Regions from separate parts of the Homo sapiens genome. Here all the other regions are linked to region 4. The links come from fine-mapping of genetic effects on gene expression. A gene starts in region 4. Each other region holds a variant in brackets. All regions are shown on one strand. Distances are from middle to middle.

Region 1 (8,237 bases), 64 kb before region 4:
TCACTCCAGCCTGGGCAACAGAGAGAGACCCAGTCTCAAAAAAAAAAAGATTCTAGCTAGGGTGAGACAGCAGGAGCTAAGAGGTCTGTGTCCTTGTCCTCCCCGCCCCTGCACACACACATATGTGCACACACATTCATGGGCACTTGGCAGCAGAGTCACACAGCAGTAAGGAGTATATGTAGCCTGGGCACATGGCTCGTGCCTGTAATCCCAGCACTCCGGGAGGCCGAGGCAGGGGGATCACCTGAGGCCAGGAGTTCAAGACCAGACTGGCCAACATGGTGAAACCCCATCTCTACTAAAAATGCAAAAAAAATTAGCCTGGTGTGGTCGCACCCTCCTGTAATCCCAGCTACTCAAGAGGCTGAGGCAGGAGAATTGCTTGAGCCCAGGAGGAAGGAGGTTGCAGTGAGCCGAGATCAAGCCACTGCACTCCAGCCTGGGCCACAGAGAGAGACTCTTGTCTTAAAAAAAGAAAAAAAAGGAGTATATGTGGAGCTCCAGCCCACGGCTCCAGGTTCTCCTAAGACCCTTCAATGCCTGGATCTACAGATGAGAAAACTGAGGCAAAGGGATGTTGGTAACCTGCCTCAGCTCACTTGGCTGGTGGTGGCAGACGGATTTCATCCAGCCTGTTTTCCCATCTGTAAGGATCAGGATGAGGATGGCCTCCCCGGATAGCCTCAGACCCTCACCTTGCCCCATAACCCCCAGGGGACAACCTGCAGACAGCGGTGACTGTGGCCCGGGGCTGTGGCATGGTGGCCCCCCAGGAGCATCTGATCATCGTCCACGCCACCCACCCTGAGCGGGGTCAGCCTGCCTCTCTCGAGTTCCTGCCGATGGAGTCCCCCACAGCCGTGAATGGCGTTAAGGTGAGGCTAACCCAGAGTTCCAGCTGTACCTCACCCAGTGACCCCACCCCTGTGTCACCTGACCCAGGCCCCAACTCTCCAGGGTGGGCAGGGGGAGCTAAGCTGAGCTTCCTGGGCCCCCAGGATCCTGACCAGGCTGCAAGCTACACCGTGGAGCCAGACCCCCGATCCAGGCACCTGGCCCTCAGCGGGCCCACCTTTGGTATCATTGTGAAGCACTTCCCCAAGCTGCTGCCCAAGGTAGGGCCGCCCCCAGCTCCCTGGCCGCCCTGCGCCTCCCCTGCTCTGTCTCCTTCCTCACGGCTCGCTCTCCCTGGTGGGTGCCTCAGCCCTCCCCCATCTCCCTGTGCTCCCAGGTCCTGGTCCAGGGCACTGTCTTTGCCCGCATGGCCCCTGAGCAGAAGACAGAGCTGGTGTGCGAGCTACAGAAGCTTCAGTGAGTGCTCGGCAGAGGGTGTGGGCAAGGGCCTGCGGAGACTGAGCTTGTCCGTTCGTCTGTTCATCTGTCCTTCCCCAGGGCCCTGTCTCCCTCCTCAGGCACCAGAGAGCTGTCACCCCTCCTCACCAAAAGCAGGCAGGCTCTCCCAGGTCTTTCATGCTAAAAATAATAATTGTAGGCTGGGTGCGGTGGCTCATTCCTGTAATCCCACCTCTTTGAGTGGCCGAGGTGGGAGGATCACTTGAGCCCAGGAGTTTGAGGCCAGCCTGGGCAACAAAGTGAGACCCCATCTCTTATTAAAAATTTAAAAATTAGCCAGGTGTGGTGACACACCGGTCATCCCAGCTACTCAAGAGGCTGAGGCAGGAGGGTTGCTTGAGCCTGGGAGGCTGCGGCTGCAGTGAGCCATGATCACACCACTGCACTTCAGCCTGGGCAACAGAGCGAGACTCCGTCTCAAAAAATAGTAATAGGCCAGGCGCGGTGGCTCATGCCAGTAATCCCAGCGCTTTGGGAGGCTGAGGCAGGCAGATCACCTGAGGTCAGGAGTTCAAGACCAGCCTGGCCAACATGGTGAAACCCTGTCTCTACTAAAAATACAAAAATTAGTTGGGCATGGTGGCGCACACCAGTAATCCCAGCTACTCAAGAGGCTGAGGGCACTTGGGCAGCAGAGGAGGTTGTAGTGAGCAGAGATCACGCCACTGCACTCTAGCCTGGGCAACAGAGGGAGACTCTGTCTCAAAAAATAATAGGCCGGGCACGGTGGCTCATGCCTGTAATCCCAGCACTTTGGGAGGCCGAGGCGGGTGGATCACCTGAGATCAGGAGTTTAAGACCAGCCTGGCCAACATGGTGAAACCCCATCTCTACTAAAAATACAAAAAATTAGCCAGGCGTGGTGGCGGGCGTCTGTAATCCCAGCTACTTGGGAGGCTGAAGCAGGAGAATCACTTGAGCCCAGGAGGCAGAGGTTGCAGTGAGCTGAGATCATGCCATTACACTCCAGCCTGGGCAACAAGAGTGAAACTCCGTCTCAAAAAATAATAATAATAATGATAATAATAATAATAATTGCATCTATTCACTGAGCGCCTCCTGTACACCAGGCACCATGTGGCATTAGGGGCCCAGCTGTCATCATATTCTGCCAGCCCACCCATGGGGTGGTGGGGTAATTCCCCAGGCCACACCTGTCCACACCTCTCTTCAGGTACTGCGTGGGCATGTGCGGAGACGGCGCCAATGACTGTGGGGCCCTGAAGGCGGCTGATGTCGGCATCTCGCTGTCCCAGGCAGAAGCCTCAGTGGTCTCACCCTTCACCTCGAGCATGGCCAGTATTGAGTGCGTGCCCATGGTCATCAGGTAAGGCAGGCAGGGACCGGTGGGTGAGGGCTCAGCAGGGCTGGTCAGCCAACCTGGGTCCCCTAATGTCCGTGCCCTGCCACCCAGGGAGGGGCGCTGTTCCCTTGACACTTCGTTCAGCGTCTTCAAGTACATGGCTCTGTACAGCCTGACCCAGTTCATCTCCGTCCTGATCCTCTACACGGTGAGTATCTGCAGAGCTCCGTACCCAGAGCCGTCCCAGGACTAGGGAGGGGACACAGCCCTGTGCCTTGGAGCTGGCAGGTCCCAGAATAGATGACGTGGGCCCAGATCCTGACCCTGCCACTCTCCGGCTGTGTGGTTGGAGAGGTGGCAAGGCTTGGGGGAGATGAGAAAAACACCAGGCACGGAGCCTGGTACCCACTAGGTCCTCACAAATGGCAGCAGCTGTCATGGGCTAACATCTTGACCGCAACTCTGGGAGCTCCCCAATCTGCAGGGAAGACTGAACGGAGGCAGGGCCAAAACCCTCGCCCCCGCCCCATCCCCACAGGTCTGCCCATTTCCCCAGATGCACTTGCTTTGCCCCATACCTTGGCTGTACCTCCCACACCCTACTTGGAGGAGCTCTCCCCTCCCCTGCTCTGGGCATGGCCTGCTCACCCCCAGCGAATGAGGTGACACTGCAGGGCGGCGCACATCTTATACTTGGGTCTGTCCCTGTGTCTGCCTGAAAGCGAGGAGCTCCCTGAGGGCAGGAACTGTGCATGCCCTGGTAGCTATAGGGACTCCGCAAGGCAGAGCCGAAGCCTCCCCTTCGGGCCGGGAGTTTGTTACAGGGAGGGAAACCTCCCCTCAGATTTAGGCCCCCAAGGTCAGCACAGGTGCCCTTTCCATCAGACCAGGGGTTTGTCTCACATCAAGAGCGGCACCTCCTCCGCTGGGCTGGCAGGAGAGTACGGCCCCCATTAGACTGGGGGATGCCTTACCCATCAGATTCCTTCGGGGCAGGGGTGGGGCCTCTGCTATCAGACTAGGGGCTGCCAGGGCCAGGTCTTAGTTTCCCCTCTGTCCTCCCTTCCCTGTGGCAGATCAACACCAACCTGGGTGACCTGCAGTTCCTGGCCATCGACCTGGTCATCACCACCACAGTGGCAGTGCTCATGAGCCGCACGGGGCCAGCGCTGGTCCTGGGACGGGTGCGGCCACCGGGGGCGCTGCTCAGCGTGCCCGTGCTCAGCAGCCTGCTGCTGCAGATGGTCCTGGTGACCGGCGTGCAGCTAGGGGGCTACTTCCTGACCCTGGCCCAGCCATGGTGAGTAGGGAGCTGACTGACCACCCCCATCCCGCCCCTTCCCTGTCCACCCCACGTTCGTTCCCTGACCCCCATCCCTGTACCCCCAGGTTCGTGCCTCTGAACAGGACAGTGGCCGCACCAGACAACCTGCCCAACTACGAGAACACCGTGGTCTTCTCTCTGTCCAGCTTCCAGTACCTCATCCTGGCTGCAGCCGTGTCCAAGGGGGCGCCCTTCCGCCGGCCGCTCTACACCAATGGTGCCACTGCGGGCGCGGGCGGGAGATGCTGGCGGAGGGAGGG[AGGAGCCCTGGGG/G]TGCTGGGGAGGCAGATGGGAGAGAGGTGCCGGCCGAGTGGAAGACTGGCGTGCACACGTGTGTCTGTGGGTGCCGGGGGGGCGTGGCTCCTGCCTGAGAGACTCTCCTGCTCCCAGTGCCCTTCCTGGTGGCCCTGGCGCTCCTGAGCTCCGTCCTGGTGGGCCTTGTCCTGGTCCCCGGCCTCCTGCAGGGGCCGCTGGCGCTGAGGAACATCACTGACACCGGCTTCAAGCTGCTGCTGCTGGGTCTGGTCACCCTCAACTTCGTGGGGGCCTTCATGCTGGAGGTGGGGCCCGCCCTGGGTCTCAGCAGCGGGAGAGAAGGGAGGTGGGGGTGCATTGACCCCAGCTCAGCCCCGGCTGCCCCTGACACCCTCCCTGCCCTTTGCAGAGCGTGCTAGACCAGTGCCTCCCCGCCTGCCTGCGCCGCCTCCGGCCCAAGCGGGCCTCCAAGAAGCGCTTCAAGCAGCTGGAACGAGAGCTGGCCGAGCAGCCCTGGCCGCCGCTGCCCGCCGGCCCCCTGAGGTAGTGCAGGCCCACGGGCACCCCAGACACTGGAACTCCCTGCCTCTGAGCCACCAACTGGACCCCTCTCCAGCAACACCACCGCCACCACCTCCCACATCCCTGAGGTTGGCGACTGTCTACACTCCTCCCCCGAGACCACCCCCACCCTGGGGAAGCGTTGACTACTGTCCCCTACCTTGGACCATCCCGCGTAGGGGTGGCAGCCCCCAGCTCCCCTCAGTGCTGCTGTCAGTGTAGCAAATAAAGTCATGATATTTTCCTGGCTCTGCTGTGCCTGTCTTGTACCTGGCACCATAGACCCTCCCACCTGCCCAGGAGGAAATGCACATACCCCCGGGTGCCCAGCTGGCAGCCCCTGCACGTGTCTGCCCCTGGAACCCCCTGGGGGGCTGGTTTTTCAGGCTGGTTTTTCAGCCTGACAACCCCCTGGAACCCCCTGGTTTTTCAGACTCCATTGGCCAACTCCCCTCTCTGGGCCTGTGTTCCCTCATCTCACAGTAATAATGTTTCCTCTGTGTCCAGCATGTGCCTGGATATTCCGTTTAGCTTTTTTTTTTTTTTTTTTTTTTCTTGAGATGGAGTCTTGCTCTGTCACCCAGGCTGGAGTACAGTGGGGTGATCTCTGCTCACTGCAACCTCCGCTTCCCAGGTTCAAGCGATTCTCCTGCCTCAGCCTCCCGAGTAGCTGGGATTACAGGCATGTGCCACCACGCCCAGCTAAATTTTGTATTTTTAGTAGAGACAGGGTTTCGTCATGTTGGCCAGGCTGGTCTCGAACTCCTGACCTCAGGTGATCCGCCCACCTTGGCCTCCCAAAGTGCTGGGATTACAGGCGTGAGCCACTGCGCTTGGCCCCATTTAGCATTTTACACACATTGTCATGTCATCCTTCCAACAACTGTGGTACTATTCCCATTTTACAGATGAAGAAACCAAGGCTTAGAGGTTACACAAGTAGTCAGAGTGGGGCCGGATAGCTTTGACTCCAGCTTCGATGTTCCTAACCCTCCTACCCTCCTTTGGAGGACAAGGAGATGTAGGCTTGCCTGGGAGGCATTTGCTAGGGGGCAGCTCCCTCTCTCCCACCTTACCCCCTCCCCGTCCCACCCCAGCATCCTGGGACATGTTTGTGGGCAGTTCCTTCCTCAGATGAAATCCAGGCTCGGAGCCCACATCTCCCAGCCAGAACCACGCGCATCATCCCTCAGGGAAGGGTGGGTGCCTCTGAGCTCATCTCACCAGCGGGCCCCTGGCCAAGCCCCTCTGCTCTAGAGAGGCAGCTTGGCCGTCTGGCTCATCTGGGCAGGGGAGAACAGGAAAGACCGGCTGTTTCCTGCCTTCCAAAAGCCCTGGCCAACCTCATTCCTGGAACCCCTGGTGCTATCCCCAGGCCTGCCAGAGTAGGGGCTGAGAAAACGTTGAATCATGCTGGGGAGAAGGGATGTGGGTGTGAAGATGAAAGTCCTGCCAGGAGGCACATCACAGTGGACCTCTGCTCCTGGCACTGTGTTGCCAGCCAGCGACGGTTCAGGGTGGTAGATGCTGTTTAAGAGGAAGCCACAGAGAGGCCTGGGTTCAAATCCCTCCTCTACCCTTAGCTGATTATTCATGAATCTGTTGGACAGGTGTGTGCCAGGCACCAGGACTAACTCAACAAACTGAATAAAACGGGACAAAAACATGGTCTAACCCTGCGAGCAGTTCACCATCCAGCGTGAAAGCCTGGCAGGGAAGGAGCACATCTCCAAAGACGTAGTGGGAGCACAGCAACCACAGCCCCATCCCCTCCCCTGCCCAAAGAAACAGCCAGGGGAATGGGTAGAAGCAGCAGAGAGGACATGGGAGCCAGGACACGAATTGTCAGCTTTAGCCCCTCAGTTTCCCAGTTTTTCTTTTCTTTTCTTTTTTTTTTTTCAGACAGGGTCTTGCTCTGTTGCCCAGGCTGGAGTGCAGTGGTGCAATCGTGGCTCACTGCAGCCTCTACCTCCCCAGGCTCAGGTGATCCTCCTACCTCAACCTCCTGAGTAGCTGGGACTATAGGCCAGCACCACCACACCCAGCTAATTTTTGTATTTTTTGTAGAGATGGGGTTTTGCCATGCTGTCCAGGCTGGTCTCAAACCCCTGGGCTCAAGCGGTCCACCCGCCTTGGTCTCCTAAACTGCTGAGATTACAGGTGTGAGCCACTGCACCCAACCTCCCTCCTTTTTTCAAGGGTAGGGGACAGCATTTCTGCTGGGTGAGTTCCTCTCTTTTGCCAGTGGGATTGCTCCTGGCAGCAGTGGGGTCTAAGGGCAGGCAGAGAGGGCTGGGCTGGCCTGGCCTGAGGGCCCACCTCTCTCCAGGTGACAAAAGTCTCTGCTGCCCTGCAATAGACACTGGGGGGCGGGGCATGGGAATGAAGGAGGCACAGGGCATATTTACTCCCTCCCTAAGACTCAGAGTCTAAGGGAGGTGGGGGAATGACTGGCGATGAAGAGATCAGATGGCAAGGGTCTAAATCAGGGGCCATCCTCATCTCCTCCCAGCCCGCAGCCCCTACAACTCTCACTCCCGCCTCAGGCCTAGGCTCCTGGGCAGGGCTGAAGGCTGCCCCTCACGCAGAGGATCTGCACCCCCAGCCAGCTTCTCCGGGAAGAGTTTAGTGTACAGTTCACTCATTCATTCCACCAATGTTTGCTGAACTGCTGCTCTGAGCCGGGCTCTGAACTTAATGAGCAAAACTGAAGATGAGCAAAAACAGCCTTGGTCCTGGCCTTCACGGGGCAAGATGACAGTCTCATCGGGAAGAGGGACAGGGCTCAGATGGTCACAGACATAGGCCAACAAGACAACTGCAAGCAGTAAAGCTAGAAAGCACAAAAAAAGGAAAAAGGGAAGGCCCCTCTGAGGAAGGGAGGGTTTGATCTGTGACCCCATGGAGGAGACCTCAGCCAGTGCTCGGGAGGAAGAAACGCCTCAGTGTGGGAGGGAGAGGGGTTTGGGAGAAAACCCCCAAAGGCCAGTGGCTGGAGGAGGAAGAGGAGGCAGAGCCAGGCTGCCATAAAGGGCCGGGGCCCTGGAAGCCACAGGGAAGTTGAGCCTCTAACCTGAGTGAAAGGCGATCAGTAGAAGGGGCACGATCTGCGGGGGTGAGGGAGGCAGGACCCACGTGGGAGAGCCCAGAGTGGAGGCTATCGCAGAGCCCAGGCAAATGATGGTGGTGTCAACTAAATAAGAAATCAGCCTTTTGACCAGGTGCAGTGGCTCACGCCTGTAATTCCAGCACTTTGGGAGGCCAAGGTGGGTGGATCAGCTGAGGTCAGGAGTACGAGACGAGCCTGGACAACATGGAGAAGCCTCGTCTCTACGAGAAATAAAAAAAAAAAAAAAAATAGCCAGGCATGGTGGTGGGTGCCTGTAGTCCCCACTACTCTGGAGGCTGAGGCATGAGAATCGCTTGAACCCAGGAGGCA
Region 2 (8,237 bases), 460 kb after region 4:
GAGTGCTGGGATTACAGGCGTGAGCCACTGCACCCCGGCCAGGTAGACTTCTAAGATGGCTCTCAATGATCCTTGCCTCCTGGTATCCACACCCTCCACTTAGTGCGGACAGGACTTGTGACTTCTACTCTGAAGACCCAGCCAAGGGATGGGATCATTTCTGGAATTAAAACTATGACTGCTATCTTGCCACAATCACGTTTGCTGGCTTCAATGAAGCAACTGCAAAGATGTGAACTATGCAGAGGCCTACGTGGAAAGAAAATGAGAGTGACCTCTGTCCAACAGCCACGAGGAACAGAATCATGCCCAAAACCACGTGAGCGAGCTTGGAAGCAAACGCTTTCCCTGCTGGGCCTTAAGATGACAGTGCGGCCTCGACTGACACCTTGACTGCAGCCTGTGAGAGGCCTGTGACCCAGCTGAGCTGCACCAGATTCCTGACCACAGAAGCGGAGATGACAAATGCAGGTCATTTTGGGCGGGTGTGGTGGCTCATGCCTGTAATCCCAGCACTTTGGGAGGCTGAGGTAGGCGGATCACCTGAGGTCAGGAGTTTGAGACCAGCCTGGCCAACAGGATGAAACCTTGTCTCTACTAAAAATACAAAAATTAGCCAGGCATGGTGGCGGAAGCCTGTAATCCCAGCTACTTGGGAGGCTGAGGCAGGAGAATCGCTTAAACCTGGGAGGTGGAGGTTGCAGTGAGCTAAGATTGCACCATTGCACTCTAGCCTGGGCAACAAGAGTGAAAATCTGTCTCAAAAAAAAATAAAAATACAAATAAATAAAGTACCTACTTACAGGCTTTGTATGGTTGGCTAAAAAAAAAAAAAAAAAAAAAAGAAAAAAAAAAAAAAACAGTATCTGTCTACATTCAAGCTGCGGTGAGGAAAAATTGGTCTTTTCCCTACTCCAGTCCACTCAGTCCACAGAGCATGGTATCTTTCTCACTCCCAGCTCATAGAAATCGACAACTATTAAGCACCTACTGTGTGCCCATGATGCATTTCAGTAGCTTTCAATCACCAATGGAATAAAGCCCCACCCTTCGCCTGTCATTCCTACTTGCCACGGCTTTCGTAAGCCATGTGGAGGGAATGGGACTTTTCATATATTAAGGGGGTCTTATGTGCCAGGCTTTGCAGGGAGCACTGCTCCAAAGAAGTAGCCACCCTGACTAAAAGCATGGATGCTGGAGCCAGACTGCCTGGGTTCAAATCCCAGCTCTGCCACTTACCAACCATGTGACTTTGAACAAATTATATAATTTCTCTGCATTTCTCATTTTCGAAACAGGGATGAGTACTGCTATAAACATTTGTGTCCACCCCCACCTCCAAATTCATACTGAAACCTAACCCCTAGTATGATGGTATTTGGAGGTGAGTTCTTTGGAAGGTAATTATGTCATAAGCGTAGAGCCCTCACAAACAGTATTGCCCTTATAAGGAAGCCCCAGCCAGGTGTGGTGGCTCACGCCTATAATCCCAGCACTTTGGGAGGCTGAGGCAGGTGGATCATGAGGTCAGGAGTTTGAGACCAGCCTGGCCAATAAGGCAAAACACCATCTTGACTAAAAATACAAAAATTAGCTGGGCGTGGTGGCATGTGCCTGTAGTCCCAGCTACTTGGGAGGCTAAGGCAGGAGAATTGCTTGAACCCAACAGGCAGAGGTTATAGTGAGCCAAGATCACACTCCAGCCTGGGCAATAAGAGCAAAACTATCTTTAAAAAAAAAAAAGGCAGTGCCATTCCCATGTGGTGGCTCATGCCTTTAAGCCCAGCACTTTGGGCGGCCAAAGCAGGAGGATCACTTGAGGCCAGGAGTTTGAGATCAGCCTGGTCAATATAGCAAGACTCCATCTCTTAAAAAAAAAAAAAAAAAAAAAAAAAAGTCCCCAGAGTACTCTATTGCCCCTTCTACCATGTGAGGTTACAGCAAAAAGACGGCCTCACCAGACACCGAATCTGCTGGTGCCTTGGACTTCCCAGCCTCCAGAACTGTGAGCAAAAAATTTCTTTTGTTTATAAACTACCCAGGCTATGTTATTCTGTCATAGTCCCAAATAGACTAAAACAAGTACTTACTGGCCAGGTGCGGTGGCTCACACTTGTAATCCCAGCATTTTAGGAGGCCAAGGCAGGCTGATCACTTGAGGTCAGGAATTTGAGACCAGCCTGGCCAACATGATGAAACCCCGTCTCTACTAAAAATCAAAAAAATTAGCCGGAAGTACTGGCACACGTCTGTAATCACAACTACTCGGAGGCTGAGGCAGAAGAACTGCTTGAACGCAGGAGGCAGAGGTTGCAGTGAGCTGAGATCATGCCACTGCATTCCAGCCTGGGCCACAGAGCGAGACTGTCTCAAAACACAAAAAAAACAAGTCCTTACCTCATGGGGTTGTAGAGATGATGCAATGAGTTTTATAAGTGCATAGAATAGTGCCTAGCAGAGAGTTAAGCATTACTTTAGCAATAAACAATAAGCATTACTTAAAGGCAACAGGAAGGCCCAAAGGAGCATCATAAGGGACCTCCCAAGGCCCTACAGCTATTAAGTCTATCCAGATTCTCTCTTTTCCACACTGATTCCCACCTCAAACACACTTTGCTAACCTTTGTGTTGGTTATCTATTGCTGCATAACCTTACCAGAAACTTAGCGACTTAACACAATACATTTACCATCTGTTCCTATGGGACAGTCTGGGCACAGCTTAGCTGGTCCTCTGCAAGGCTGCAGTCAGTGTTGGTCAGGCCTGGGGTCTCACCTGAAGGCTTACCTGGGAGTGATCAGCCTCCAAGCTTGTGTGGTTGCTGGCAGCATTTGCTTTCTTGCAGACTGCTGGACTGAGCTTCAGTTTCTTGTTGGCTGTCAGAGGCTACCTCAGTTCCTAGCCACCTGACCCTCTCCCAAGGGCAGCTCACACAACATGACAGCTTCCTTCTTCAAAGCCAGCAAGAGAATTTCTCAGCAAGGCAGATGTTGCAGTCTTACATAAGGCAACCATGAAAATAACATCTTGTCACCTTTGTGGCACTCTACTGGTTAGCAGTCACAGGTCTAGGCCATCTCAAGGGGCAGGGAGTACATAAGGCTGTGAACAGCAGGTGGGGATCACAGTGACCACCTGGGAGTCTATCTGCCACACCTCCCAGTGCATCCAAATTCTGTTGTGCAGAGGGCAAGTGAGGTCTAGCATACCCCCCAAGAAAGCAGCCATCTTCTACCATCCACCCACCAGTTTGTAAACTCCAGTCAGGGGTGTAATTGAAGTGATGCCTGGTTTGGGATTGAGTTTTCCTGGAGATTCTGGTCCTGTAATGAGTTTTTTCCAGCTGGGATTCCAGTTAGTGATGGACAGCATCAAGCTGTCCCTTGCTCCTGGCCCCAGACCCCACAAGGTGCTTTTCAGGCTAGATTCCTGAGGGCTGTGTCATCAGCTGTGCCACCTCCTCCTCCCTACCATGATGAACTGTTCTGGGTACTTACCTGACTCCAGAGAAAGGTCATTAAGGTCAAACAATGCAATGTGCATCTGCTAGTGCCTCATCCGAGTGACGCTCAGGTGAAGGAACAGCCTGTGGCCACACGTCTAACCAGGGGATAGCCTAGATCCTAAGGCCAGGTCTGTCTCCACAATCCAAGTGCTGATCTTCAATGGTACATACTTTTTTTTTTTTTCCTTTTGAGACAGTCTTGCTCTGTTGCCCAGGCTAGAGTACAGTGGCATGATCTCAGCTCACTGCAACCTCCACTTCCTGGAGGCAATTCTCATGCCTCAGCTTCTCAAGTAGCTGGGATTACAGGCGTGCGCCACCATGCCTGGCTAATTGTTGTATTTTTAGTAGACGGGGTTTCACCATGTTCGCCAGGCTGGTCTCGAACTCCTAACCTCAAGTAAGCCACCCACTTCGGCCTCCCAAAGTGCTGGGATTGTGGGCATGAGCCACCACACCCAGCCATGGTACACACTTCTAATAAAGCTTCCTCTACATCTAAGCTTTCTGATTTCCACCCTCCAAGTACTTAAAACTGACTCGATGTGAAGTAATGCTATGTGAAATC[G/A]ACATAAAAAAGTTACTGCTCCCGAAGATCCTTTAATGCAATCTCCTTACCCTTAATTCAATGGGCAAGAGAATCTTCAATTTTCATTTTCTTTCTCCTCTCTACAGTTTCTTAATCAGAGTGGCTATTTCCATAACAATAAAAACTGCTTCTTACAGAATCCTCAGGCAAAAGAAGTGTTGTGGCTTTTTTTCATTTTTAATTCTTTTAGAGAATTCTCTAGGGTCTCACTGCTGCCTAGACTGGAGTGCGAGGCCGTGATCATAGCTCACTGCAGCCTCAAACTCCTGGGCTCAAGCAATTCTCCCACCTCAGCCTCGCAAGTAGTTAGGATTCCAAGCATGCACCACCACCACACTAATTTTTTTTTTTTTTTTTTTTTTTAAGAAATGGGGTCTAACAGCCGGGTGCCGTGGCTCACGCCTATAATCCCAGCACTTTGGGAGGCCAAGGCGGGCAGATAACTTGAGGTCAGGAGTTTGAGACCAGCCTGGCCAGCATGGTGAAACCCCATCTCTACTGAAAAAATACAAAAATTAGCTCGGTGTGGTAGGTGCCTGTAATCTCAGCTACTGGAAAGGTTGAGGTAGGAGAATCACTTTAACCTGGGAGGCGGAGGTTGTAGTGACCAAGATTGCTCCACTGCACTCCAGCCAGGGCAACAGACTGAGACTGTGTCTCAAAAAAAAGGAAAGAAATGCATCTTACTATGTTGCCCAGGCTGGTCCCAAACTCCCAGCCTCAAATGATCCTCCCGTCTTGGCCTCTCAAAGTGCTGGGATTACAGGCGTGAGCCACTGCACCCGGCCTCTTAATTTTACTTTTGACCTCTGGGTATCTGCACCCCTTTACTACTTAGGGAGATGCTCTGCCGGTAGGTTTGGTGGAAGACGGAAAGCAAGGGGCCAGGCTCTCTAGAACGGCCTGTATCATGAGACGCCACAAGAGAATTAAGCCCCACACAAAGTGATTCAAGCAACTACTTTCACATCAACCAAAGGATGATGAAAAGACTGTACTATCCTAGAGAACACAGGAGAGAAGGTACCGATTGCCTTAGACAACAAGGTTGCATTTCCTCACTTTGGCCAGCCTCACACCCCAGCCCTGAACTTTCAATCTGGACACTTGGTCAGTGGTGAGAGAAGTGGCCGTGAGTCTAGCTGTGGCACCCTGAAGAGTTTAACAGCCACGCGGCCAGAAACACATTCATCTTTCACATACAATGACAGAAGTAAAAATATTTATTTTATCTTAAAAATCTGGTCCCGCAAAAAGGCCAACACTTTTTTCAGTTCACGGTCTTGACCTTTCAAAGAAGAAATCTTTCAACTGAGAGGTGAGTTAATAAAAGGAATGTCAGAGGTGCTTTCAGATTTCTTATAAACCAGTAAACCAAGCAACCCTGGACTTCTAGTTTACTGAGCTCCTTCTTCTAGCCATTCACAGTTCCTGAAGGAGAAAAGAAGTTGTTTGCAGATAAGGCACTTTAGAAACCACCAAAGAGAAAACCCAAGTCTGCCAGGAGCTGCACTGTGAACATGTGAGCCGAGAGGGCCACCAGCAGACAGAGTGCCAACTCCCACAGCTCCATGACAACAGCATCCACCTTCCTGCCCCAACACTGTTCCGTCTGGCTTCCAGCACCCGCCTTGGCTCTGTGTTGCCTACCTGGCCTAGAATACATGGAAACCAGACAACTGGCCAGAGATAAACACTGCTGCCTGAAGCTCAGGGCAGCTGCCCACAGTGAGGAATCCCTTCAGAGGCCCCAGCTGGGGCACGCCGAGGGAGCAGTTCCTTTTGCAAAGATGAGTTAGTGCGGATCAGCACATTAGCAAAGCAAAATATTTAAACATTTTTAAAAGCTGCTAATCCTTCCAATTTCCCTCCTGATTGTAGCTCAAGCTGCAGCCTCTAAACCTGCTAAAAATCAGGAAGAAACCCCTCCTCTGGAGGGCAGATGGACTGAAGTGGCTACAGCCAGTGTGGGTACGGAAAGCCTCCCGCTGAACTGTGATCATGTGACACCTGCAGACCCTGGGAAGGGCTGATCTGAATCCTGGCAGCAAACTCAACCTCTTCTTTTGCTTGGGGGGCTTGTGTTTAATACAGGTCATTGCGATGGAAGAAGTCTCAGAGTCTCTCTCACATCAAGAGGACAGATGGGGACAGGGATCCTGGAGCTTTTCTTCTCCTGTGTTCTGGTTGCATACTTGAATCCCAGGAAACAGTGTGACACGGTGCCAATTTACTGCCAAACATGCCCGGTTTGTCAACAGAGCCAGACAAGGAGGAGAGGAGAGATTCATGCCCCAAACACAGGCCAGCTGAGGAGGGCTTCGTCCTCCTTCCTTTGGCCCAGATGAGGGAGCGCCTTCCCAGAAGTCACATGAGGAAAAACCGTGCTCAGGTCAGAACTGGACCCAGCCTGTGCCTGGCTGGGTCTGGCTGGAAGTTGATCTGTAAAGAGAAGACAGGGAAGGGTGGGGGAGTTCAGATCTTTGAAAATACAAAGCAGATAAAAGTTGGTTTCTCTCTGGACAGAAAAAGCTCTAAGAAGCCAGTTCCTAAATGTTCTAGAGCAGCAGTCAGCAAACTCTGGCACAGAGACCAAATCTGGCCCTCGATGGTTTTTTTTTTTTAAATAGTTAATGTAACTGTATTTACCAAAGTTTTTTGTTTGTGGTTTTGTTTTTTGTTTTGTTTTTTTTTTGAGACAGGGTCTCACTGTCGCCCAGGCTGGAATGCAGTGGCACACTCAAGGCCAACTATAGCCTCAACCTCTTGAGCTCAAGCGATCCTCCTACCTCAGCCTCCCTAGTAGCTGGAACTACATGACCGGTTAATTTTTGTATTTCTTTTAGTAGACACAGGGTTTTGCCATGTTGCCCAGGCTGGTCTCGAACTCCTGGCCTCAAGTGATCTGCCTGCTTTGGCCTCCCAAAGTGCTGGGATTACAGGCGTGAGCCAACATGCCTGGCCGAAGAGTCTTAACCCCTTTCCCATGTAGAAAAAATATAGCTCACTGCCAGCCCTCATTTAATTTTACATAAACATGCTCTTTGAGGCTGAAGCAAATCTGACTGATTTTCAACGTGAAAATAAAATATAAAAACTGTTCTTGGAGTTATTTCAGAATCATCTGAATAATCAGAACTATTTTGGAAAAATCAGACTCCTCAAATGAATCTTAGGCTAAAAACTGTTCAAGAACGATGTTAACATCACATGTAAGAATGCTGCGTTTTCTAGGATTTGACTTTTTCAGTAATCAATAATTACTATATTTTGGGCCAGGCATGGTAGTTCACGCCTGTAATCCCAGCACTCTGGGAGGCTGAGGTAGGCGGACTGCTGGATTCCAGGAGTTCCAGACCAGCCTGGGCAACATAGCAAAACCCCGCCTCTACTAAAAATACAAAAAATTAGCCGGGTGTGGTGGCAATTGCCTGTAGTCCCAGCTACTCAGGAGGCTAAGGGATAATCACCTGAGCCTGGAAGGTCAAGGATGCAGTGAGCCGACATCACGCCACTGCACTCCAGCCTAGGCAACCAGAGTGAAACCTTGTCTCAAAAAAAAAAAAAAAAAAAAAACAGAATTACTATATTTTGTAAATGGAAATACCACTATTAAAAACAGAATGCTATAAATAGAATGTCTTTTGTTCCAAAGCTGATATACTAGAGCGATGCAAAAATAATATAAAAGCAATACATTTTGTGGCAAAGTTATCTCAGGGTCAACGCTGCAGTCTGAAGTGCCACTGGCAAGTTTTCTCAGGGCAAACAGGAAAAGGGTTACAGTCCTCATTTCACGCCTCTGTTTTTTTTGTTTGTTTATTTGTTTTTTGAGATGGAGTCTTGCTCTTGTGACCCAGGCTGGACTAGAGTGGCATGATGTCAGCTGACTGCAATCTCCCGGGTTCAAGCAATTCTCGTGCCTCAGCCTCCCAAGTAGCTGGGATTACAGGCACCACCCCACCACGCCCAACTAATTTTTGTGTATTTAGTAGAGATGGGGTTTGACCATGTTGGCCAGGCTGGTCTTGAACTCCTGACCTCAGGTGATCCGCCTGCCTGGGAATCCCAAAGTGCTGGGATTACAGGCATGAGCCACCGCGCCCAGCCCATGCCTCTATTTTTGTAAATAAAATTTTACTG
Region 3 (8,237 bases), 240 kb after region 4:
GAAATCTCGAATCATAGTGATTAAAATAGTTGGGGTAAAGTTGTAGCTTATATGCAATACTACTTGGAGGAATTCTTTTACTAATTTGTATTTAATGTGGAAATTGTATAGTTTCATTGATTTAATCATAAATAATGGAAATGGTCTTCAAGAAGTTTTATTTCATTTTTTTGCTTATACACTCTGATTCCTATAATACAGTGCTATAAGCTATGCACAGAAAATAAAATGTTTGAAATCCAAGAATAATGGTTCTTACTGCTAAGAGGGAGTAATAGTTATTACTAATGATTTTGATTGGGTTGCATTTTTGTTGCAATGTTTATTCCACTTGCAGTTAGAATATGAATATGTTTTATCACTAATGTGGCTAAATAACCAAACATTTGTGTAAAAAAAAAAAAAAAAGCCAAGATTTCATTGTTTGTTGAATATTTCTTAAGCATCTAGCCCCTAAAGAGACTGCTTCTTACCAAGCCTGTAAACTATGCATGATGGAAATTCTTGTATTTTATTTAGGAATGGCTGTTGGTTTACTTACCACATCTGTGGAATCATGGCTATAAATGTTTGCTTACAAACTAAAAAAAAAAAAAAAGAAAACCAGAAGAGAAGAAAAACACAGTCTCTCTCATTCTTGAGGAAGTGTAGTGTGGCAGTTAAGAGAAAAGATCCTGGGGCCAGACTTGTTGCTTCAAATCCCAATTTGTAAACTTTCCTATGCCCCAGTTTCTTCATATGTTAAAATAGTAATAAAGGAACTACCTACCCCATCAGATACTAATGTGAATTAAATGAGTAAATTCTTATAAAATGCTTTAGAACAGTGTCTGGCATCAGGTAAAATGCTGTGGATTAGTTCTCATTCTGACTACCACTGCCCCAATACACTGATGTTAACATGCTGATATATTTATTCGAAGTCTTATTTTCCTATGCCTATTTTTCACACAGTGGTAACCCAATAAACTTTTAAATTATAGTAAACTTTAGAGAGCATTAAACTTGCAGCATGCAGAAATAGCTTGTCCTGCGTTCTTGTGGCTATCCTAACTAGATAAGGCCATGTTAATGGCTTGAGAAACATCAGTGTGTGTGGAATGAACACAGGACGTTGGAGGATTTGAATTCAGGCTCTGCCATGTGCTAGTTTGAGTGATCTAGAACAAGCTGGTTTACCACCTCTCTTTAAGTTTTGGTTTCCCCAGTCAGTAAAATAGAAAGTGGTGAAACCTAACTTGTGGGTATAAGGAGGATAAGAAATACTGTATTTGAATGCCTAGTACAGTGTCAGGGTTGAATAAAGTACGACTTCACCTTATTCCCTAGTAATTATTGTCCTCATGACCAAACCTGCCTCCTCTCAAAGGCAGTGGCCACAACAGCACATCCAACTTTTATTTAGGAAGACATCTTTGTCTTTTTTCAGAGCATGAGGAGCACAGCAGCCGCAAGGAAATGGTCCTGGTGGAGGGGCTGTGCTCTGAGCAGGGGCGCCGGGGCTGAACGCTGGCTAGTTCCTCTGAGAGGAAGCCCTTGGAGAATGAACTAGGGAGGCAGGAAGAGTTCTGGGTATATGGAAAGTCAGAAAACATCTGGGTCCTATGAAAGGACATCAAAGATCTGAAGGCCCAGCTGCAGAATGCCAACAAGGTCATTCAAAACCTCAAGAACCGGGTCCAGTCCCTCTTGGTTACAAGTGATTATTCATCTAGTCTGGAAAGACCCTGGAAGCTGAGAGCTCCTGACACCCTGGAGGGGTCTTCACCTCATAGTGTCACTGATGAGGATGAGTTGTGGCTGTCTGATGGCACTGGGGCTTTCTACTCTCCAGGACTTCAGGCCAAAAAGGACCTGAAGAGTCTCCTCCAGAGAGTATCCCAGCTGGAGGCCCAGCTCCCAAAAAATTTATCTAGGGACATATAATTAACATATATATAACAGTTGAAGAACAGTGGCATGGTAAATTTTTGTTTTGTTTTGTTTTGATACAGAGTCTCACTCTGTCACCCAGGCTGGAGTGCAGTGGTGCCATCTCGGCTCACTGCAACCTCTACCTCCCAGGTTCAAGCAATTCTCCTCCCTCAGCCTCCCAAGTAGCTGGGATTACAGGCATGTGCCACCATGCCCAGCTAATTTTTGTGTGTGTTTTTAGTAGAGGAGGGGTTTCACCATATTGGCCAGGCTTGTCACGAACTCTTGACCTATGATCTGCCTGCCTCAGCCTCCCAAAGTGCTGGGATTACAGGCATGAGCCACCACGCCCGGCCCATACTAAAATTTTTAGTGCGATACTTTATCAGGGTAGAATTTGCTGTTAAATGCCTCCTATGGCTTATGTGCCAGAATTCAGTTTGGGGGAGTTCCTTAGAGATGTTCTCATAGAAATCTCTACAGAAGCCCCCATAACTTATCATCCACCCTTTCCTCTTCTGTCCTGCATTAGGAAATATGATTCCCTGATTCAGGATCAGGCCCGGGAACTGTCTTACCTACGGCAAAAAATACGAGAAGGGAGAGGTGTTTGTTATCTTCTCACCCAGCATGCAAAAGATACAGTAAAATCTTTTGAGGATCTCCTAAGGAGCAATGACATTGACTACTACCTGGGACAGAGCTTCCGGGAGCAACTGGCCCGGGGAAGCCAGCTGACAGAGAGGCTCACCAGCACACTCAGCACCAGTAAGTTGGCCACAGGGCTTTGGATACTCTCAGTCACCCCACAGTTCCAGCCCCTGGTGGCCACCACATCTCCACTGCAACTTTTTAACGTAGGGTCCTGTTTCTATTTCATTTCCTGGGGCTAATATAGGATCAAGACTGCTCAATGGGGAGCATGGAGAGGAACACACAGGGCTGGAGATGCCATGGTTACAACTCTAGAAACTTCACCACTCATGGAATGTGACCTGTGGGGCAGGGGAGACATCTCTCTGGTGCTAAGAGGGAGTAGGGGACATGACATGGAAGGGCCTTGTTATAGGAGGAAGAGCCGTGAGCTAAGAATTGCAAGACATCGAGGCGCTGAGGCCAAAGGGTCCGTGAGGAAACAGGCGCAGCTCACGCCCCTCGGCCTACGGGAGGGAGGGCAAGGAGGGTTCTACGGTTCCTGGGAGGACGAGAAGAGCCAAGAGCCCCGACGGCCGGCGCCGGGGAAAAGGCCCCGAGGCGGGGTCCGCATCCCTGGAAGGGCGGCGTCCACCCTCCTGAGAGGCACGGGGCGCCCAGGGCTCGGAGGCTCAAAGCCCGCCGGCTCCTGCAGCTTCTGGGAGCCGAAGAGTGTCAGCCGGGAGGATCCCGCACACGGCGCTTAGTTCTGGAACTGCATACCCAGGGGAGGATGCGGGAGCCCGAAGCCCGGGTATGTGTCCCCGAAGCCCGGGTGTGGGTCCCCATGGTTTTCGTGTTGGGGGTGGGCGCGGAACGCTAAGCCTGGGCCTATTGGGAGCCATAGTCTTCTTGATGGCTGGTGCTTATTGGGCTTTTTTCAGTCGAATTTCGAAATGCAGTTGAATTTCTTACTTTGGAAACGATAATAGAAATGGCTGATCTAAGATTTTCATGATGATATTTTGCCTTTTTTGGTGCATATGCAGTTTCTGTGGTGTAGTGGTTATCATGTTCGCCTCACACGAGAAAAGTCCCTGATTCGAGACTGGGTGGGAACGTCGTGGTTTGTTTTTTTTTTTGTTTGTTTGTTTGTTTTTTTGGTCCCTAAATTTTGTGAGTTTAATCGAGGTTGGGAAACAAACAGAAAAGTATTTGAACCTGTGGCTACATTTTAGACCTCCTCAATCTAGACAGATTGTTGACCAGGTACAATTTCCACTGGTCTGCCAGCAAGAGGCCTGCTTAATATTAGCTTTGGTTCCAGAAATTCCTTAAGATTCTCTTTATTCTCTTCTGTCGCCTGAATTTTCACAGGCTGACACTGAAAGTGGATGACATCTTAGCGCATTTCCTAAGGGTCCCGCTTGGTTTGGCTTTACTCTGGTAAGTTGCAGATCTGGCTGATTTGCAAGACAACAAAAACAAAATATTTTTTAAAAAGGTTCTAAATCTGCATCTGGAAGTCATAGAGTCCATATTCCTAAATCACATGAATTATGTATATACATTTGCATGCATACCCCTTCCTCAAATAATCCTCAGAAAACCGGTTAAGTTTTAGCATCTGTGACTCAGATGCATATGAGGCCTTGGTAGATTTAGAAGTTGAGAGTAGAAAGTACAGGTTTGTATTTTAGAAGGAGATTTGGGAATAAATGTAGCTTTGGTTGATATAGATCATATGTTAAGGTTTGTTGGCCAGAGCTGGTGTGTGTCTTGGGTGTTGGGCAAAGAACAGAGAACAGCCAAAGCTCTGCGAGGTCAATGTGAAGGATGATTTCCTTGGTGGGCTCAAGTTTATGACTCAGCCTGGACCTAGCTTGGCTTCTCAGCTTGAGAAGAAGCATGATTC[C/T]ATGTCACAGCTCCTGTCTTTGAAAAAGTCATAATGACTCCCAGACCCAACATGTGGAGAAAACTCTGGATTTGTCTCTTCAGTTGAATGTCTCCATTGAAAATTGAGGAAAGAAATCTCTCTAATATTTGAACTTCATCAAAAGACTAATATGTTAATATTTGACCGTCAATATTTCCTTAAACTAGTCTACTGCTTACATAGCTAACACATCAAAGCATATTAACTTAGGAAATGGGATTCTCCCAAACAATGAAACATTGACGGCAAGCGTTCTTCATCTTTTCACATCACATTTCCTTCAAATGCTTTATACATCTTCAAGCAGACAAATAATAGTATTATAATGATTACGAGACCGATCATTACTCTTTTGCCAAAAAAAACCAACGACAAAAGACTAACTTAGTGGACCAACCTTTGTTTCTTCATTATCTCTACCGTGGTTCTGTCCTTTTATTTCGTCTTTCTTCTAATTCTGCTTCTGCTTCTTATTTCCTCCCTGGATTTGAACTTTACTTACCTAAACTACCAGTTAGGTTACCTTCTCAGAACCTCTAAGGCAGCAGTTTGAGGTTGATGATGGAAGATTTAGGATTAGAAAAAAGAAACATGAATGAATTTCTGATGTTTTATTATAGGGGTTTGTAATGCAGGTAGAAAGACCTTTTTCAGAGTTAAGAGTTTGATCCGACAAATGAGCTATTTTGATATTTATAACGTTGTCTAATAAAAGTTTCCTATAAAAACACATTTGGTTTGGATGTCTTTGTTAGCTTTTAGTCGACACTTGAAAAAACCGCTTAGAACAGTTTCTAAATCTTTGTGGTTACTCTTTTCTGTTATCCTCCAGGGGGTAGTTCCAGAGAGGCGTTGGTGGTTTAGTGGTAGAATTCTCGCCTCCCATGCGGGAGACCCGGGTTCAATTCCCGGCCACTGCACGTGGTTGTTTTTCACTTCGCTATGGCTCTTTACTTGTCTTTTACGCTGAAAATTATACTGCATAACCCAAGAGTGCATTTAGGGGCTTGGCCACCACAAGGTAAAGTGACAACAACACTCACCAAAGTAGCGGCAGGAGACTAACCCAGGACCCCATGCAGTTGTTGGACTCAAACAGCTTAGCAAGCTGGCAAGCATGAAGTGTCTCTGGTGAGTCACTGCAGTTTTGATACTGGTACCTGTTACTTTCATTTATTCACTGGAAGGATCCCTGCAAACCCAAAGAACCATCAGTTTCCTGATTCGCGTGCTGGACCTTGGGCTTACCGTTGAGCCACTATGGAGAGGATCAAGAAATGACACTCTTGGAAGGAGAGAAGCTGCGGGCAGGACAGTCACCTCAGAGGTCCAAGAGTTGTCATCGGCCCAAAGAAAGGGGAGGTGTGTGGGCAAGAATCTGCGTGGAGATGAGGGGAGCGGCGGAGACTGGTCCTTGCGCAGAGGTGGCCAGTGAACCCTCAGGGCTGTACCCCAGACACCGTGAATCGAATTTGCTCACATCATCAGCGACCGCAGCCCCCGCGTGTTTTGTGGGCCCATCGGTGTTCCGCGAGGGATTCCGTGTGTCTGGCAATGTGTGTCAACAGGTGTTGGCCTGAAATTTGGCCGGGCACGTTGGCACACGCCTGTAATCCCAGCATTTTGTGAGGCCAAGGCGGATGGATCGCTTGAGGTCAAGAGTTCAAGACCAGCCTGGCTAACATGGAAAAATCCCATCTCTACTAAAAATACAAAAATTAGCCGAATGTGGTGGCATGCACCTGCTATTCTTGGGACGCTATACTTGGGACGCTGAGGCAGGAGAATCGCTTGAACCCAGGAGGCAAAGGTTGCAGTGAGCCAAGATCGCGCTACTGCACTCCACCTGGGCGACAGAGCGAGACTCCGTCAAAAAAAAAAAAAAAAAAAAAAGCAGCGAAAGAAGGCAGAGATGTCAATGGGACAAAGAGACCTCCCAGGAGGCTTGTTGTAGAGGCAGTGGCTGGATCCTGAGAGAAGAGATTTTTTTTAAATTATGTAGCAGAATGGGGAGAGAAAGGGAGAAGCACATGAAAGACAGAAAAGCACAAAAATCTGCGGACGTCCTAGAATAAACCAGATAAAATAGTGTGAGTGTTTTTACATTAAAAAAATAGAAGAAGTGCAATGGTTGTCAGCAGACTTTGTGGTCGTGTAGTGGTTAATACTTGTAGTTGTGGTTGCCACAACCTCTGTTCTAATCTGAGTCACAGTAGTGTTTTCTATCCTGCAACTGTGGCTAATAGACCTGTCGTTTGCTTTGCCTTTAATCCTAGCAGCCTCCAGAGAGCACAGGAAACCTCTGGCCCTGAAGGGCGCCAGCTTCTGGAGTTTAGCCCACAGCGCAGAAACTAGGGGGCGGCCTGGCCTATAGGAAAACTTGGACATGCTCTTTGTCTCACAATTGAGCAGGAAACATTCCCGTAGGTGAAGATGCCGCCTCTCAAGGGCCCTCTGTCTGTAGCTTCCAGTGATGAAATAATGCGGTTATAGTCTTTTTCGGTAGAGAAAACGGCTGTATCAGTGGAATTTTTTAAAAACACAAAATGAGAACGAGTTTTTCATGAGTTGACAATAAAATCTAAACTAGTTGTCATGGTTTGCACCGGCTTGCCTCCATTCCCCATCCGCTAATTTTTATGAGAACAGTAAATTATTACTATTATTATTATTATTGAGATGTAGTCTCGTTCTGTCACCCAGGCTGGAGTGCCATGGCTCAATCTCAGTTCACTGCAACCTGTGTCTCCCAGGTGCAAGCAATGAGAACAGGGATCCAGTTTCAGCTTTCAACATATGGCTAGCCAGTTTTCCCAGCACCATTTATTAAATAAGGAATCCTTTCCCCATTTCTTGTTTTTGTCAGGTTTGTCAAAGATCAGATAGTTGTAGATGTGTGGCATTATTTCTGAGGGCTCTGTTCTCCTCCATTGGTCTATATCTCTGTTTTGGTACCAGTACCATGCTGTTTTGGTTACTGTAGCCTTGTAGTATCATTTGAAGTCAGGTAGCGTGATGCCTCCAGCTTTGTTCTTTTGGCTTAGGATTGACATGGCGATGCGGGCTCTCTTTTGGTTCCATATGAACTTTAAAGTAGTTTTTTCCAATTCTGTGAAGAAAGTCATTGGTAGCTTGATGGGGATGGCAGGGAATCTATAAATTACCTTGGGCAGTATGACCATTTTCACGATAGTGATTCTTCCTACCCATGAGCGTGGAATGTTCTTCCATTTGTTTGTATCCTCTTTTATTTTGTTGAGCAGTGTTTTGTAGTTCTCCTTGAAGAGGTCCTTCACATCCCTTGTAAGTTGGATTCCTAGGTATTTTATTCTCTTTGAAGCAATTGTGAATGGGAGTTCACTAATGATTTGGCTCTCTGTTTGTCTGTTATTGGTGTATAAGAATGCTTGTGATTTTTGCACAAGAATTTTGTATCCTGAGGAGTCATTTTTAAAATAAATATATTGCAAATGACTTTTCCCAGTCAGTGAAAAGTCTGACTGAAAGCTGTCAACTGAAAAATCACACAATTTATAAATTTAGAAGGGAGATTTTATTTTTTATAAAGGGTTACAGCCTGCAAGGTGGCCATTCTGACAGACAGGGAGGCATACCCTCTTGCTGCTGAAACCTGAAAAGTACGTTTCCAGGGAGGGGAGGGGGGAACAGGGATTTATGTTGATGTGGTGGGCCACATATACATATTCAACAGGGAATAGGAGGAGCTCTGAATATTCATGAAGGGATCCTGCTG
Region 4 (7,241 bases):
CATTCAATTTACTCTTTCCAGGTTGCTATGGACACGAGGGAGCCCAGGGGGTCTGTCCTCTGGAGCCAAGGGAGGCGTGACCACTCCCTCCTTTCCATTCCCAGCTGCGCCTACATCTGCTTCTCAGGGACAGCAAGAAGGGGGGACCCCCATGGGGGCCCTGAGGTCCTCTCTCTCGGCTGGGAGGTGGCCTCTGGGAGTGCCTCAGTTTCCCTGCAGGACATGCAGTTAACAGGACACAGACCTGACCCTCCCTCCGCTCCCCATGCCAGGGGTGCTGCAGGGTTGGAAAGATCAGAACAATCTCGCTGACTGCCCACCAACCCAGCCCAACATGCCAGTGAGGGCCACAGGGGCAGGCACTGCCACCTGTGGCCATGGGGACAAGGGGGTGGCAGGGAAAGAGAATGTTGCCCAACTGCAGAGCCCTGGACCAAGGGTCTCATCCCAGGACCACCACTGACCTTGGGCCTATCATGCCCCTCTCCCGGACTTACTTTCCCTATCTGTGATGAGGTGATCTCTAGGCTCTGAAGTTCTCTGGGGACCCACCCTCCAGGAAAGGCCTTTGAGGTCATTCCTGTTCCACCCCTGCCTCCAGGTGGGGCCTCATTCAAACCATGGTGGATAGAGGACAACTGAAGCAGCGGGCGCCCTCTGCGTGCCATTTGGGCCCCCACTAACCACAGGAGGGAGCTTTCTAGACTAACCCAGACCCCCTGTGCTGCAGTCCCAGCCCCAGCAGCTGTGTCCCAGCAGAGGAGGAACCTGCTACCTCCCACCTCTTCCCTTCCCTGCCAACCTGGGGGCAGGGCTAGCTTCAGAAGGTGGCATTTAAGAGGCGGCCCTGGGGGTGTGGCACTGTGCCATGCATGGACCAAAAGAAAGGGGTGCCTGGCTCAGGGCCCCATCACCACCCACAATTCATGACTGGGGCCAGCGTGCCCTACACACCCGCTGCAGACCCTGGGGAAACGAGCTCTCCACTGTCCTCATGCCAGGGGCCACTGCGGGCCGCCTACTCTGCTCCTCTACAAGTCCCAACTAGTCGTGGGTTTGTCCAGCCAGGCAAATCCCAGGACACGGGCACACCCCACAGTCATACACAGGAACACACACCCTCCTGCCAATGCGGGCTCCAGCCTGGACAAGTCCAGCTCAGGGGTCCCATGCCAACCCTAGCTCTGCCACTACCACACAGGGGACCCTGGGCCAGCCCCTGCCTCTCTGGGTCCCTTCCAACTTTGTGGGGGCCAGCTGTGCCCTGAAATCCCTAGCCCAGTGTCTCTTCCCATACACAGGAAATGAAACTTCAGAACTTTGTTTCTAGACTGGGTTAGTTTAGAAACCAAACAGAGCCCTGGGCTGGGAGTTGGAAGACCTGGTGTCTAACTTTAACTGGCTGTGTGCCCCCAGCATGGTGCTTCCCCTCCCTGAGCCTCTGTTTTCTCCTCTGTTACATGGGCATCATAATGGTCCCGACCTTGGTGTATTAAATGTGAAACACTCAGCACGCGCCTGGCACATAGTAGGCACTCAATAAACAGTAGCTACTGTTAATACGTTATTGCCACCTGCATGCCTCTCATCTGCACACATACACTCTGTCCCAGCTGCGAGTGTCCCTTACCAATCTTCAGCCACCACCAACTTCCCAGGGCCACCTCCCGGCCACCCGGAGGCCCAAAGCAGACAGTGCATCAAGAGCATCCCGCACCCCTCGCACCGGCTCACACCCAGCTCCCGCCCCACACCCTGGGACCCCCACAAGCCTGCAGCACGGGTGATGTGAATCCTGCCTGGACATGAAGACAGGCCTGCTTCTCCTTCCTTCCCTGCCTGGAACTCATTCCAATAGGCAGTGGCGGCAGGTCTTGTGGCTGCCCCAGATGGGCTGCAGAACACCGCGGGTGCCCACACCAGCCTCGAGCCAGCATCCAGCCACCGCCTCAACCCCAAGGCCCGTGGCAATGGGAGATGCCCAGAAACTCAAGGGGCAGGAATCTTTAGGGATCTCATTCTCCGTGTCCCACACCCCTAACAGGCCTGGGACAGATGGGAACAAAATACCCCTGGTGCCAGGCACTTTATTCTATTATCTCCTTGATTCCTACAATTCCACGTCCCATTACAATCCCCACTACAGAAAACAGGCTTAAAGAGCATAGTGATTTGCTCAACGCCACTCAAGGTGGCAGAGCCTCAATCCAAGCCCAGGCCAACCTGACTCCAGGGCCCATCTTTTGCCCCGTGTGTGGGCCTGGTCTAGATGCCTCCCTGCCCTTGAACGAGGGGAACCCTGGCCTAGTCCACCACCTGGGCGGCACCCACCCTCTCGCTGACCGCATTGTACTTAATGGCGAGCTCATCGCGCTCGGCACGGCTCTGGGCCAGCAGGTCCTCCACGCGGGACAGCTCCTGCTGCAGCAGCTGGTTCTCCTCCTGCAGCGACAGCAGCGATGCCATCTCTGTGGCCGGCAGCAGGACTGGCAAGGGACAGTGGGCACATGGTTGGCTTCTGGGTCCAGTGGGACATCCTCCCCCCAACAGGGAGGGCAAGAAAACCATCCAGGCCCCTGGGAGGAGTCCAGATGGGAATGGCTGCAGCACCAGGCCTGCAAACAGAGCTGAGAACAGGGAGGAAGGCAAGGAGGGGATACAAAGCTGGACGTAAAGTGAACACAACTCCAGCTAAAGTGTGGCCCAGCAGGTTTGGGAGGTGCAGGAGAGACACTCAGTCTAGGAGCCAGGAGACCCCTGAGTTCTTGCTCCCTCCTTTTCCAATTAGTCTTCTTCTCCGGGGCCTCAGATTTACTTATCTGTAATATGGGTGGGGCGGGCACGGACTCACGCCTGTAATCCCAGCACTTTGGGAGTCGAGATAGGAGGATCACCTGAGGTCAGGAGTTTGAGACTAGCCTGGCCAACACGGCGAAGCCCTGTCTCTACTAAAAATACAAAAATTAGCTGGGCATGGTGGTGTATGCCTGTAGTCCCAGCTACTTGGGAGGCTGAGACAGCAGAATCACTTGAACCGGGGAGGTGGAGGTTGCAGTGAGCTGAGATTGCGCCACTGCACTCCAGCCTGGGCAACACAGCGAGACTCTGTCTCAAAAAAAAAAAAAAAAAAAAAAAAGGTAGAATAGTAGTAACCAGATCCTCCCAGAAAAGCATCAAAGCCTCGCTCAAGAGAAGGGCTTCATGGAACTTTAAAGGCTAGGGCTCAGGAGAGCATAGCATAGGTCAGGTTGTGAGGAGAAGGAGAAAGAGAGAAGAGGGAAAGAAAGGCCAGCGGGAGAAGCGGGGTTGTCCACCTCCTGTGGGTTCCCCTTCTACCCTGGGAGAACTGGACATACACCCCAGGTGTCAGGGTGAGGGCCCTCTGAGTCTCTCCCTGTCTGGGGCTCCAGGGCGCCAACATCCCTGGCGCTCCCAAGGAGGGGGCCCGTCTGTAGCTTGGGAGTTGAACACAGACAATGGTTAGAGCACCAAAACGCCACACGCCAGCACACCAGCTGCAACTGAGTGTGCCTTTCCCAGATCCTCAAGCCACATAACTACACCGTGTGCGCCACCCACTGAGAGGAGCAGGGACCATCCGCCTTCCTGCCCACGTGGGAAACGGATGGACGGCGCCATCCACTCAGACTTCCGCAAAACCCTGGTCTGAGCTGAGCTGCCCTCTTCCTGTATCTTGGGTTCAGCCAGCTCACACCTTCCCCGGGTGGGAATACGGGATTTGGGGTTCACATCTCTGCAGCAGGCTACAGGCAAGCACGCAGGAGATGCTCGGCCCTTCCTTCTAGTTGCACCACATGCGGAATAAGTCTGGACAAATTACATCCCTGAGCCTCTGTTTCCTCATCTGTAAAATGGGTTCTTCTGTCATAAAGCTGTGCCTGCCCCACAGTGAGTTACAGTCATGATCATCATGGTGACTGCTCAGGAAAGGGACATGAGAAGAGGTAAAATGTGGGTGGTGTTTGTGGAGGGGAGCGGATGGGGGTGGCACCTGGGCTCTCAGGCTGGGAGAGGTTGCGGGTGACAATCTCCCTGATAAGGGCAGGCAGGCTGGTGATCTGAGCGTCCTGGGCCAGGTCCCGCGCGCCCAAGCCTTTCTCCTGGCACAGGACGCTGCTCTCCAGTGTCTGTGGGAAAAGCGAGAGGGTCTTCAGGGGACATGGGACCCGGGGCTCCCTGGCCTCGTGGGGAGAGCCACAGAATCCTACTGCCCAAGATACAGGTCCCCAGGAGCCCCCTCAAGATGGAGTGAAGCCTGGGAGTTAGAATCCAAAAAATCCCCATGCAAAGAGCCTCTTGTGTGCTCACTGCCCCAGGAAGAAGGCCCAGGGCCAGAGATGAGAACCAAACCCTACGGGTAACTCCCAAACCCCACTGGAGGCAGTCCAGTGTTGGGGGCCCCAATCCGGTTCCGACCCTAGATGGATGAGGATCTGGCTATGCCAGAGGTCCCCCAAGCCCTAAAATCTGGCAGTAGAGACCCCCTTCTCCCAACCCAGGGCACTGGGATGAGGGAGCCACAGCAGGTGCACCCTGTGTGTACCTCTGCCCCCCATCTTGCCAGGAACTGCAAGCGGGGGGCCCCTGTATACCCCACCACCACCACACCTCTCCCACCCCTTGATCCCCAAGACGCACACACCTCTCACCACTCCTGTTAAGTCCACGCTGCCCCGCCCCAGACAGGGTGGGCACAGCCCCCAGGACCCACCTGGATAACCGTCTCTAGTGTCAGCTCCACCTCCTGTGCCCCCGCCAGCCCCAAGCTCATGGGGGGGAGGCTGTGGGCATGCCTCCAGCCCCCTTCTCCAGGACCCCAAGACTAGCTCAGTCAGCACGCGCCACAGCCAGGATGCTGTGCTGAGCACCAGGCAGATTAAGCTTAAATCCGGCGGCGCCCCCATGTGACCACCGCGGTGGGAGGAGCAGGATGTGGGCTGAGGAGGGAGGGGATGGGAAAGGACAGGAGAGGAGGGAAGCAGAGGCAGGGAGCCAAAGGAAGAGGAAGGATGAAGAGAGGGGAGGAGAAGGGAGAGAAAAGGAGGGAGGAGAGAGAAGAGGGAATGGGAGGAGGAAACAGGGGAGACACCTGGAGGTCAGGACCTCACACACTCTTCACCCTGCGCAGGTTGCTGGGTCCTAGAGCCCTCCAAGCCCAGGGGGTGGGGTCAGTAGCCATGCGGCGGGAAAGGCCAGAGTCCTAAGTATTTGTGACCATCTTTCTGGCCCAGAACGGGAGTCACATGGTTAGCTAAGAATGAGAGGATTTACAGCATGCTGGGAGTATGTTTTCCCACAACAGGTGTAGGGCAAAGAATGCAGGCTGTGAGATCACCCAGGCCAGGCTTGGCACTTAGTTGGGCATGAGCGGTCCAGCCTGGACTGATGAGCATTTATGCAACACCTGCGGCATTCCTAGGTCTGACCTAGACACAGTGGTAGAGCCTCGAACTACAAATGCCCTAGCCTTGCCCTTCAGGCACTTATTGGGAAGCTTCTGGCCCCTTCACACCCACCCCAGCCCCCACTAGCTGGGTGCACCAGGGACACTGACTTTGCCTCTCTGAGACTCAGTGTCCTCTTACGTAAGATGTGATAATATTGGTACTCATCTCTCGGAGCCGTCCGGGGATGAAACAGTATCGTGTGTGCATACCCAGCACATGACATGGTGCTGGGGGGTCACGTGGCCAACACTCAAGAAATACTCATTTCATTCATTTGAAAATCCAGAAGGTACAGTCCCAGCCAGGCGCAGGCACTCATGCCTGTAATCTCGGCATTTTGGGAGGACAAAGCGGGTGGATCACCTGAGGTCAGGAGTTCAAGATCAGCCTGACCAATATGGTGAAACCCCGTCTCTACCAAAAATACAAAAATTAGCCGGGTGTGGTGGTGCACACCTGTAATCCCAGCTACTTGGGAGGCTGAGGCAGGAGAATCGATTGAACTCAGGAGGCAGAGGTTGCAGTGAGCCAAGATCGCGCCATTGCACTCCAGCCTGGGCAACAAGAGTGGAACTTTGTCTCAAAAAAAAAAAAAAAAAAGGCACAGTCCCTATATCCCAGGGCCCTGAGACCCAGAGGTCACCCACCACCTCCCATTGTTCTTTCCCTGGGGCAAGGAGGCTATGTGCTCTAGTGCTTAGGCGCACAGCTCTGGAGTCAGTATCAGGTCTGAGGTTGCATGTGAGACTCAGCTCTGTCACTTGCAACTATGGTGTTCAAGACAGTAAGACCTTGAACAGGTTACCTCCCTGAGCCTCAGTTTTCTCATCTCTAAAAGGAGACTAAACCAGGCCAGGTGCAGTGGCTCAAGCCTCTAATTCCAGCACTTTGGGAGGCTGAGGCGGGCAGATCACTTGAGGTCAGGAGTTTGAGACCAGCCTGGCCAACATAGTGAAACCCCATCTCTACTAAAAATACAAGAATTGGCCTGTAATCCCAGCACTTTGGGATGCTGAGGCAGGCGGATCAGGAGGTCAAGAGATTAAGACCATCCTGGCCTACATGGTGAAACCCCGTCTCTATTAAAAATACAAAAATTAGCTAGGCATGGTGGTGCACACCTGTAGTCCCAGCTACCTGGGAGGCTGAGTCAGGAGAATCGCTTGAACCTGGGAGGCAGAGGTTGCAGTGAGGCGAGATCATGCCACTGCACTCCAGCCTGGCGACACAGTAAGACTCCGTCTCAAAAATATAAATAAATAAATAAATAAATATAAAAAAAATTAGCTGGGGCGTGGTGGCATGTGCATATAATCCTAGCTACTCAGGAGGCTGAGGCAGGGGAATCACTTGAACCCAGGAGGAGGAGGTTGCAGTGAGCCGAGATTGTGCCACAGCACTCCAGCCTGGGTGACAGGGCAAGAGTCTGTCTCAAAAAAATAAAATAAAATAAAATGAGACTAGACCGAGTGTGGTGATTCAGGTCTATAATCCCAGCACTTTGGGAGGCCAAAATGGGAGAATCGCTTGAGCCCAGGAGTTTGAGACCAGCCTGGGCAACATAGCGAGACTCTGTCCTACCAAAAACAACAAAAAAATGCGACTGATAGTACCTACCACACCTGGCAGGTGGTGAGCTATTAGCCAATGGGGGCCACTGTTCCTATTGTCATTAGCATCACGTGTCTGGGCTCCTGCCCTTAGAGTTGTAAGCCCTAAAAAAGGACAGGAATTGCTCACTCGAGGAGCTCGGCTTTTAAGACACAAGTCTCC

What was found. PIP is the estimated chance that this variant, and not a neighbour inherited with it, causes the effect.
Region 1: its variant is fine-mapped to the expression of CROCC in whole blood (INTERVAL, PIP 0.92).
Region 2: its variant is fine-mapped to the expression of CROCC in whole blood (TOPMed, PIP 0.95).
Region 3: its variant is fine-mapped to the expression of CROCC in whole blood (INTERVAL, PIP 0.98).

Annotation. Positions count from the first base shown.
Region 1 is chr1:16,982,768-16,991,004 of GRCh38, reverse strand. ATP13A2 (ATPase cation transporting 13A2) reads left to right here. Exons shown (of 29, transcript NM_022089.4): 21 at 718-878; 22 at 1,002-1,118; 23 at 1,235-1,314; 24 at 2,531-2,683; 25 at 2,771-2,867; 26 at 3,736-3,959; 27 at 4,049-4,200; 28 at 4,373-4,542; 29 at 4,647-5,047. The coding sequence ends at 4,784. Among named protein-coding and RNA genes, the nearest start is that of MFAP2, 6.3 kb to the right of the region's middle. The variant AGGAGCCCTGGGG/G (reference allele first, on the strand shown) is at 4,244.
Region 2 is chr1:16,457,141-16,465,377 of GRCh38, reverse strand. NECAP2 (NECAP endocytosis associated 2) reads right to left here. Exons shown (of 8, transcript NM_018090.5): 8 at 5,300-6,536. The coding sequence ends at 6,488. It overlaps LINC01772 (long intergenic non-protein coding RNA 1772), which reads right to left and starts at 4,430. Exons shown (of 2, transcript NR_147210.1): 1 at 2,091-4,430. The variant G/A (reference allele first, on the strand shown) is at 4,074.
Region 3 is chr1:16,675,437-16,683,673 of GRCh38, reverse strand. It overlaps TRG-CCC4-1 (tRNA-Gly (CCC) 4-1), which reads left to right and starts at 5,333; the gene lies at 5,333-5,403. It also overlaps the pseudogene EIF1AXP1. RefSeq lists a silencer at 6,595-6,744 and an enhancer at 6,775-6,824. The variant C/T (reference allele first, on the strand shown) is at 4,463.
Region 4 is chr1:16,919,570-16,926,810 of GRCh38, reverse strand. It overlaps CROCC (ciliary rootlet coiled-coil, rootletin), which reads right to left and starts at 4,880. Exons shown (of 37, transcript NM_014675.5): 1 at 4,733-4,880; 2 at 4,013-4,148; 3 at 2,332-2,486. The coding sequence starts at 4,792. RefSeq lists enhancers at 2,356-2,966, 3,150-3,921, 3,922-4,693, 4,694-5,465, 5,466-6,238 and 1 more.